Regions from separate parts of the Homo sapiens genome. Here region 2 is linked to region 1. The links come from fine-mapping of genetic effects on plasma protein levels. A gene starts in region 1. The other region holds a variant in brackets. All regions are shown on one strand. Distances are from middle to middle. Region 1 holds the start of AMBN (ameloblastin). Region 2 has its middle 5.3 kb from the start of AMTN.

The links. PIP is the chance, under the fine-mapping model, that this variant and not a neighbour inherited with it causes the effect. The UK Biobank Pharma Proteomics Project read protein levels with antibody pairs (Olink). The fine-mapping took linkage between variants from a reference panel, not from the people measured, so its PIPs are less certain.
Region 2: its variant is fine-mapped to the plasma level of the AMBN protein (UK Biobank, PIP 0.98).

The regions. Positions count from the first base shown.
Region 1 is chr4:70,589,312-70,594,703 of GRCh38, forward strand. It overlaps AMBN (ameloblastin), which reads left to right and starts at 2,945. Exons shown (of 13, transcript NM_016519.6): 1 at 2,945-3,062; 2 at 4,016-4,084. The coding sequence starts at 3,048.
Region 2 is chr4:70,510,524-70,515,915 of GRCh38, forward strand. No RefSeq gene overlaps it. Among named protein-coding and RNA genes, the nearest start is that of AMTN, 5.3 kb to the right of the region's middle. The variant TA/T (reference allele first, on the strand shown) is at 2,690.

The sequences.
Region 1 (5,392 bases):
AGGAGGCTGAGGCATGAGAATTGCAGGAACCTGGGAAGCGGAGGTTGCAGTGAGCCAAGATCGTGCCACTGCATTCCAGCCTGGATGACAGAGTGAGACTCCGTCTCAAAAAACTTTAAAAAAAAAAACTACATGAAGATTATATAGTGGCTCATTCAATGTCATATGACCAGTGAGTATTACAGAGGGGATTTAAACAGCTGTGCTCTCAACCACTTTACTAACATATTCTGCCAGATCTTGTTGCTCTAAATTTTTCATTGTAACTTTTTCTATGGCCTATGTCTCTTCATGTGTCTCACATCTTTTGTCACTTTGAGATTTTTTTTTATTTTGCTGTACTCCAGACACAAGTATTTTCTTATAACTGACTCTCTGATTCTTCTTCATACAGGTATGGTCTTGGCCAACATAACATGGTTTCCATCAGCTATGGTAATTTCCTTATATCTATAATCACTGTCAGAAACTCATTCATACATTCATACTAATTTCCAGATTTCATTGTAATAGAAAATTTTTTGTAGGATATATTAGTATTACATTTACCAACTTTCCCAGTAACATACATCCCATAAAATCTGACAAAAAACTGTTTATTAGCTGAAAAAATGAAACCAACTCCAATTGATTACAATCATTATTACAATATGAATACACACTGTCTCATGCAAAGTGGGAAACAAGATTGGAAAGAGGAACTGAAATGTTCAATTGACTGTCTAGTTACAGAGGGTGAACTTTATGACAGCCTTAGAGATCCTTACATAGTTTTTGAGTGGGGCAGTGAAATGCCAAAACCAGTATTTTAGGAAGATAAGTCTAGTGTTGGTGTGCAGGATATTGGAGGAGAAATAAACTACCAGATAAACATCTGGAAGTCAGTAAGCCAGAATGGAGTGTGACATTTAAAAAAGGAAGAAGCAACAGTGTGTATGATATATTGGATATTTGGCTCAAAAGCAAAGCAGAACATAAGAATCCTACCAAAACATCATTATTAGTGTGTCATGATCACGCTTATAAACTTTACAAGACACACACATACACACTATTTGCCAGTTTTTTAGCCAACTAGGAAGCTCGTTCCTATGGATTCAGCATCAACTTCCACAGAGAAAATGTCCTCCATCAGGTCCCTCCTCTACCTCCTTGGAGCTTATGAACCTAGCTGCCAGCACTCCTCCTCCTCCAGCACACACACACACACACACACACACACACACACACACACAGTTCTTGTGGTCTCATATTTCATGTAGTTTCTCCTACCAAAAGGACAATCAACTCATTCATTCAGCACCCAATAAATGGCAGCTGCTGCATCTTCACCATCTCACCAATCTTTAAGACAAGCTCAGGCTGGGCGTGGTGGCTCACGCCTGTAATCCCAGCACTTTGGGATGCCAACACAGGAGGATCACCTGAGGTCGGTAGTTTCAGACCAACCTGGCCAACATGGGGAAACCCTGTCTCTACTAAAAATACAAAAAAAGTTAGCCGGGCATGGTGGCGCAGGCCTGTAATCGTAGCTGCTCAGGAGGCTGAGGCAGTAGAGTCGCCTGAACCCAGGAGGCGGAGGTTGTAGTGAGCTGAGATCACACCACTGCACTCCAGCCTGGGCAACACAGCGAGACTCCGTCTCAAAAAAAAAAAAGACTAGCTTGTGGTCATTAATTATTATCCTTACATAACAGAAGAAGGAACTGGGGCTCAAAAGAGATTAAGGGACTGCATCAAGCACCAGAGACAGCATGAAAAATAATACTTTTCATTTCAATAACATTTTGCTGTTTGCAAAACACATTCACATTCTTCATTTCTTTGCATCCTAAAGATAATTCTGGTATCAGTGGAACACAGAGGTTTTCAGGAGCAGCTTCTAAGATAACATTATTTGAAGCTGTTAGGCCTACATTTGGGTATGGATACAGCTTTCTCTCAAAATACCAGCTTCCTCAATGTTCCCTGTAATTGACAAGATCCCTACTTCCCTAAAGAGTGTACTGACTCATCCCTTCTTCAGAACTAATCTTAAATGCTTATCCCTACCATATCTGAAATCACAACTTTGGAAAGACAAGGATGGGCAGAGAAGTAACAAAAGCAGCTAATATTCAATCCACATCCAAGATATTATCTGTTCACGGAGAAAAACCAATCTGTGTTGACGTTAACCTTTTAAGTGATCGAAATATGTCTTATTAACCTGGCTTGATACTAATGCCTGGGAATGTGTCTATCTGAAGAGTGAACTGACACTTGTGCCCATTGATTTGGTTCATAGAGAATGTTCTGATTTACGTCCCCGTCCCCACAGATTTTTTTTAAAATGCACCAAACGTTTACCTGAAGTAAACCTGATTCTTGCAAAGGGTCCAACTGTAGTTTCTTACAAAAGCTTGGCTATCTCTAATCAATTATCTCCAGATATGAAAATATCTAGGAAATTCAAGGAAGAAATCACACACATTAATTTTCCATCTAACATTTTAGTGTTTTCTTTTAAACTCTGTGTGTGCTGGGGGGAAGGACAGTAGTCTCTTTTACTACAACAAACAGGAGGGTGAAAACCTGAAGAATGCTAGCATTGGGTCACTAGCTTTATCTGCAGATAAAACCTGCACAAAACAGGTTTTGTTTTGCACCTATTTTACATATATTTTCCCCAGCTCACCAAAATAATTGTCTTCAGAGCCTATGTCCATTATTCCTTTACTGCCTTCCCTGCTATCAAGTTCTCTGAATAAGTACAGGGGCTGCAGTACAATTAAAAATAATGAGACCCTACTGGGCCAATGTCCCTGCACGCAATAAAAGGGTGTGGACTAATTGCAGGAGCAGAGATTCCCGCCCCAACTCCCCCCCGCCACCCCTCGCCATTTTGCTTCACTTTGATTGGTGGATTGGCACTTTAAATAAAGGTTTCTAATCTTCCCTGAATGAGAAGTACAGAGCAAGTCCCACGCACAGTCCTGAAAAAAATTTTAATCTTCTTTTCTTAGAACTATCTTGGTTGGCATCATCAGGCCCTGAGAGCACAGTGCATGTCAGCATCTAAGGTAAAATGGGATTTTATGATTTCCATGTGTTTCCTGTAAATTCTTTTTTTCCTATCTCCTGACAGCTTTTATAAAGAGGATTTATCTTCATTTGTCACCAGTAGCTGAATTATTGCTTGTTGTAATCCATTAGCATGTCCCAGAGATGACATGCCTAACACCCATTCAACTAAGAAAAAAAAAAAGACTTTTATTTATAGATTGTGTTTTTTTTAATGTTTTTGATTATAGTGCCTAATTCTTTTTAATATTAGAAGATGAGTAAATTTCTAGGCTATTCAGATCTCTATTCATGTAAGAATAAAGAGCTTTTTGAATTTATAGAATAAATTTTAAAAGATAATTCATTTTAGGAAGAGGAAAGCTAAATTTGAGACATATTTTCCACTAACATCAAAGAAAATTAAGATAGCCAATTTACTCTCATTTGAAAAGAAAAATTTTGTCATGGTTACGTAGATTACCTAAACATGCAATGATGTACCCTCTATTCCTGCAAATAAAGGTTTGTTATAAAATGACTTAGTTGCATTACATTTCACATGCATTTCAAAATGTGTCCCAAAGGGTAAGCAAAGTATAAACTTCTGTGAATAATACCTTATAGACCAATATTTTACTTAGTGGGAAGGATTTTTAAACTCATAATTCACTTTATGAAATGAAATATATCACAAAGAATATCGATGGAGGTTGTTCCTACATACTTATTTAGGCTGTAGATCCATTTAAAACGTGCTTAGATATTTTTTAATTGCTTGTTAATTTATTTCAGAAACTACTACATACAAATCGGTTGTTTAGTAACATTTAGTTTTTGTTTTTGTTCTTCTAACCTTTATCCCGGTGGTTTTTGTAAGAGCAGAGACTCAGGCTCATTTTCAAAAATTGTCTTTTAACCATTCTGAATAAAAATTCATCTGATTTAATTCTCCAACTTAATTATGTTTTAGATTCCACTTTTCAAAATGAAGGACCTGATACTGATCCTATGCCTCCTGGAAATGAGTTTTGCAGTGCCGGTAAGTCAGTCTTTAGAGTGTGTCCCAGAAAAGGTTATTGATTGTCGAACTCCAAACAACACTGAAGGGATATGGACTGAGAGTCCACGCATAGACTCACTTGATTTAATCCAGTGGTTTAGTCCTATTGAGTCAAAAGCCATAGTTGCTCAGATGTCAGTCTTGCAATCCAAAAGCGGTAAGTGATAGCCGGGTGCGGTGGCTCACGCCTGTAATCCCAGCACTTTGGGAGGTTGAGGCAGGAGGATGACCTGAGGTGAGGAGCTTGAGACCAGCCTAGCCAACATGGCTAAACCCTGTCTCTACTAAAAATACAAAAATTAGCCAGGCGTGGTGGTGGGCACCTGTAATCCCAGCTACTTGGGAGGCTGAGGCAGGAGAATTGCTTGAACCTGGGAGGCGGAGGTTGCAGTAAGCCAAGATTGTGCCACTACACTCCAGCCTGGGTGACGGAGTGAGACTCCATTTAAAAAAAAAAAAAAAAAGCAGTAAGTGAAGTATGATATTTCTACTAAAAAGTTATTTAAAATAGTCCCAAGACAATTTCTAGATCTTATTCCACTCATTCAAAGTTAAAAGCTTAGATAGTCTCCACAATGCATGGCGAAATTTTATTATCAACTTATTGCTATCATTATAAAGTTGAAATGGAAAGAGGAAATTTCTTTGAAAAAAATACATTTTCTTCATTTCAAAAAGAACTATCTCTAAATTTCTATGGTTACAAAACTCAGCTAGATAATTCCATTTAAAGCTAGTAATTAACTAGCAAATTTACCTTGTAAACATGAAATTGTGTGACTGAGAGCTGAAGTTTCATAAATCAAAACATATCATAGTGATGGGGCTAATTGTGTATTACAGTCCCACACCTGATCCATTCTAGTATATATTGAAATGATCTCATACAAACACAATCTTTTGAACACTGAACTACTCCAGCCAACAGCATGCAATTCTGTTATCACAAAAACTTTATTTGGCTGCTATATGCATTTAGCAAATATGTTGAGCAGCTGCCATGCATCCAGTAAATAAGACATGGAAAAATGAAAGTAAATAAGACATGATCTCTTGTCTCCAGTAGCTCACAGTTGGCCTCAAATGAACTTTAGAGTATTTTAATTCCTTGAAAGAAAAGGTTAGCTACTTGGTCTTCTTAAAGTGTTTTAGAGAAAGAGAATGGAAATGGAGAAAGAGGTTGAAAACTGATTATAATGATGAAAACCTTAATTCCACAAATAAAAATAGTCTCTGTTCCATCACGCAAGATGAATTTTAAATGAAAGAAAAATTGAGGGTGCCACC
Region 2 (5,392 bases), 79 kb before region 1:
ATCCCCAATGTCTAGCACATTGTCTGGAAAATAGTAAATATTGAATAAATATTTATTTGAGTAATTAATTAGTTAGAGGTATAGAATGCAATTGGACTTTAGGATAAGGGGACAAACTGTGAAGCTAACCACTAAGGCAAGCCCCAAGACAAGCAATTTCTCCCCACCTTACATCTACAAGTTCTCAAACTTATTAACATAATCTACCTAGACTGGACAGCCAATTAAGAAGCCAACAATTGACGCTTAAGCACCTCCTTGACATCTGGTGATTTTTAAACAAAATTAGGGAGCTGTTTGGAGTATCTTAGTCCTTAAGCCAAGGGTCTACAATCAAGAAAATCATACAATTAAATTATAGAGACAAATGAGAGCTAGTTTAGCCCTCGCAGTAAAATGAGAGTCAAATGAAAACACTACCATCAGCTTATCTGCTTGATTCTCTCCTAAGATTCAGTGATGGGTTTTGATGCTTATCCATCATCTCTCTTATCTATTCAGTAATATTCAACAAACAAAGGCCAGGACAGACAAAGAGCACAGTCTGATTTGCCTGTTTGCAGAACAATGTCATCTCAACATAACCCTAATCAAATTCAGCTTCTTCCAAAATCAGCTGATCAGCAAAGAATAGCTTCATATTAAATTCATTCAGAAACAGTTATTCATCCAAGATATGGCTCTATACGAAGTCACTGGAGATGAGCTAATCAAAAAAGAACCGCCCCATCCAAAACTCATCCAAAAACAGCTATTATTCAAGATTTTACTCCACACAAAGTCATCTGAAATCACCTTAACAGGAAAAAGCTCCCTTGCCCAAAGCTCATCCATAATCAGCTGTTTGGGCAGGATAGGGCTATACAGTCATCCCTGCTTGTCTTCAGAAGATACATTCCAAGACCACCAGTGGATGCCTGAAACCACAGATACTATCAAACCCTATATGCACTATCTTTTTTTCTATATTATACAATTACATTATATAGGGGAAGTAGCGTATACAGAGTGGATATGCCAGACAAAGGGATGATTCACATCTCCTGCCGGGCAAAGCTGGACGGTGCAAGATTTCATCAGGCTACTCAGAGTAGCATTCAATTTAAAGCTTATGATTTGTCTGTTTCTGGATTTTTTTATTTAGTATTTTCAGACCATGGTTGACCATGGATGAGTGAACCATGGAAAGCAAAACCAAGGATAAGGAGGAACTGCTCCACACAAATTATTTTAAGACAAGGTGATCTGCAAATAATTCTTTTGTCCAAAAAGCTATTCAGCAACCAGCCCCTGCAAAGAAACTCACTGAAACAAGCCGATATACAAAGAGCTGCACCATCCAAAACACGTCCAGAAATAGCACAAACTCATATTTAACTTAGCAGAATGCTTCCCCTTCAAAAGCTGGTCCAAAAACAGCTGTTTAGTTACATTCTGGATCTACACAAAATCACTCAAGAATAACAAATAAGCAAAGAGCCAGCCCAATGCAGTGGCTCACGCCTATAATTCTAATGCTTTAGGAGGCTGATGAAGGAAGATCACTTGAGGCCAGGAGTTTTAGGTGACATAGTGAGACCTTCATCACCACAAAAAAAAATTTTTTAATTAGCCAGGCATGGTGGTGCATGTTTGTAGTCCCAGCTTCTTGGGAGGCTCAGGTGGGAGTAATGCTTTAGCTAAGGAGTTTGAGGCTGCAGTGAGCTATGATCATGCCACTGCACTCCAGCCTGGGAGACAAAAAAATTTTTAAAAGCCAAAAGCCAGCTTGTTACTGGTGGAAGTTATCCAGGTTACTGGCAGTGAATCCGTACAGGTCTGCCACAACTCAATTCTTGCCTCCTCAGAAGAAATAATTCGACTGAGAGGCATAAGACAGAAAAAGAGACCGATGAAAGTTTCACAGCAGGAGTGGAAGTTTATTTGAAAAGGTTTTATAACAGGAAAGAAAGGAAAGTTCACTTGAAAGAGACCCAAATGAACACCTGAAGGTCAAGTCCAGTGTTTTACCTTGATCCTAGGACTTTTTAGGCTGGACCCTTTCTCATGATTCTTTCCTTAGGGTGAGCTGCCTGCATGTACAGTGCCCTCCTTACCCTTGGGAGGTGAGCATGTACGGTGTGTTTAGGAAGTTGTACCCATGACCATCTGAGGTTTTCTTCCCTTTTCTGGTAGTGTGCCCCCAGAAGGTCATACTCTGCCATTTTGTCTGTTAATGTGCATGCCCAGGAAGTTGCTTCTCCCTGGCATCTACATTCAGTTAACACTTTAATGCAACAGGTGTGGACCATCAGGAAATGACCTCTCCCTGGCACTGGCTACCAATTTATAACCTTTAGAGATGCAATGTTATCATTGCCAAACCGTCACCCAACATTCCTTGTGGGTGGGGGAGAGCCCTTTTCTGCCCTACTTATGCCTAACTACCTGTAACAAGCCCATCTAAAATGATTCCAAAGCAGTTATTTCATCAGGGATTGACTTTTTGTATCACCATCTAAGTACAGCTGGAAAGCAAGGAAGTGTCCTGTCCAAAGCTCCTCTTAAAACAGCAGTTCAGTCAGGAGCCTGCTCTCCAGAACATCATATGAAACCTGTAGCCAATCAAAATCTCCTCTATCAAAATATTCCCCAAAATCTGCTATTCATTTTTTTAAAAATAAATCCCAATCTTACCCAAAGTCACCTT[TA/T]AAAAAAGTCTGCTCATATCAAATTTTATCCAAATCCACAAATCAACAAAAGACCTGGACAAATTCATCTAATAAAAGTGAAATTTTTCCTTTTATATCCCTCTATACAAACCCACATCTAGATTCAATATTTTTATTTTCAAGCTCTCACTCTCAAACCCAAACCAGTATAACTACCCCAGCTATCACTACTTCTAAAGCAACTTCTACCACCCATCTGCAACTTCAGTTTTAACTACAACTCCCATGCTATCATCTGCTACAATCATAAATCAAGCCACATTATCCTACAACATCCCAGAAGCTGTCATATACAACAGCAACTTTGAAACAAAGGGTCCTCCCTATGATGGCACCAAACTATACATTGACTCGGCATCCAACTTTGAAATCACAGAAACTTCTTATGACACCACAAAATACATACTGACCTTCCATTTGACTTTGAAACTACACATTTTCTCGATTGTGTCTACAAAACTGAAAGTAACTGCCCAATTGACAGTATCAACTCAAAGAACATAAATTCCCAGCACCTTCCTTACCCTTACCTAAAGCGTTATATTGTCGTCCAAACACTGAAATCATTAATTAATTCCTCACACTAGTACTGTATCTCTTACCTTCCCTTCAGCATCCTCATCTGTTGCCCATTTGCAGGGTGTTCTTTCCTATTTTAAATATCACACCCAAGCTTTTTTTTTTTAATTCCATAAGTGTGTAATTCTATTGTTAAGTTGAAATATTTCTACATAGGCCAGGTGCAGTGGCTCATGCCTGTAATCCCAACACTTTGGGAGGCTGAGGCGGGAGGATTGCTTAAACCCAGAAGTTCAAGACCAGCCTGGGCAACAACATGAAACCCGTCTCTACAGAAAATTAGCCAGATGTGGTGGTGCGCACCTGTAGTCCAGCTACTTGGGAGGCTGAGGTGGGAGAATCACCTGAGCTGGGGAAGTCCAGGCTGCAGTGAGCCAGGAGAGCCAGGATAGCGACACTGCACTCCACCCTGGAAGACAGAAGGAGACATTGTCTCAAAAAAAGAGAAAGAAAGAAAGATGTCTACACGGACAGAATACAAAGTTGCCACACTCTTGCAAGCTTAACCCTATTTCATGAGTAAATTCGGTATAATATAGCCACATTTGTAATGACATTGTACACTGAACTTTATCACTTATGACAAAGGTCAATTCAATCTGCCAAGAAGTCTGAACATAGTTTCCTGATACCCCCTCTGGCAAAACTTTAAAAGATTAGTAAAAACCTATATAGTTTGATCTATTTAGTAGAATTTCAGATATGTTTAATTCAGTGGCTGTTTTTCGGGCACCTACTAAACTACTCCATAGAGAAGTTGCTCTACTTCTGGCCTCCAAGCGTAAGTCCGGTTTCCTCTGGGGACTGGTTGACAATTTTAAATACTTTTGTAAATTTATAAAGGCAAACAAGTCAATTCAATTCAACCCATATTTATTGTTCTATCACATACAAGCTGAGAGCTAAAGAAAATATCAAAACATATAATCTTCCTTGAAATTTAATATCTCAAAACAGTAATCAAATAACAATGGCATCAGGTGAGGTAGAATAAAATAAATAACAAAGTCATGAATTCCAAAAGCATCTCAGAGAAAGAAAAGTCTAACTCCAAATGAGAGGAACAAAAAGAAAGGCTTCATGAAGGTGGTAGCATAAAGAAGGATCTTTAAGGGTGAGTAAAACATTGACAGTCAAGGATGAAAAAGAGGACTCCAGGCAGAGGAAATAACATGAACGAATGCAGAAAAAGAAGATCAAAATGCATCTTTTCTAGCCTCTTGTGCATACATCCATTTTGCCTCTACCACATTATATAGTGATATGAGACTTGCTGCATTTTCCACAAGAACATAAATAAGGGCTTCCTCTTACTCACTTTTGTACCCGAGCACCTTGTACAATACCTTGTCCAGTACAGTGGAGGCTTCTGTTTAGTAGGTATCAGGGATTGCCATGCATCAAGAAATGCTGAATGTCGTTTACAATTATCAAGGTACTTAATTTGTTCAATCAAGCTATTACTATAATTAATGATAATCTTGTGCGCAGAATCCTTTTAATGTTGTGAGTTACCAAGTGGTGTAAGGAAATATAGAAAATTTCCAGTCTGTTTTATCCTTTCATTGTCAAAAAGATGCTCTTAGACTGAGATTCATAAAGAGTGCCTCAGGTCTGGGTAATCCTAGATCTTCCTATATCCATTGAGTGTGATGGAGTTGGAGAGAGGGTATGTTTCTTGCCTTGAGAAATCCTAGAAAGCACAGGGATGACACAAATCACTAAGGAATTCCACTAAGACTCCTCTAACCCAGAGATTTTTAACCTGTTTCTTTATAGTTGGGCTCTCAGGAGATCCATGAAATCCCTGAAGTTATTTCATAATCATTACATTCATAAGCATATATGCATTTTTCTGAGGAGATGACATGTGCATTCAATCAGCTTCTCAAAAGGGTCCATAACCCAAAGAAACTTACAACTAAAGCTAATAAGAAAGATTAAGGAATGCCTGGAACTAAAGGGCTAAGAGATGTGTCCTATAGTTCATAAAACACTTTAATGAATTCTGATGTTCTATGTCATTTTGGAAACATAAATTATCTCACTGTTTTTGCTGATGTCTCCTTGTCTTGGAATGATTTAAGAATTCTTTTCCTTTT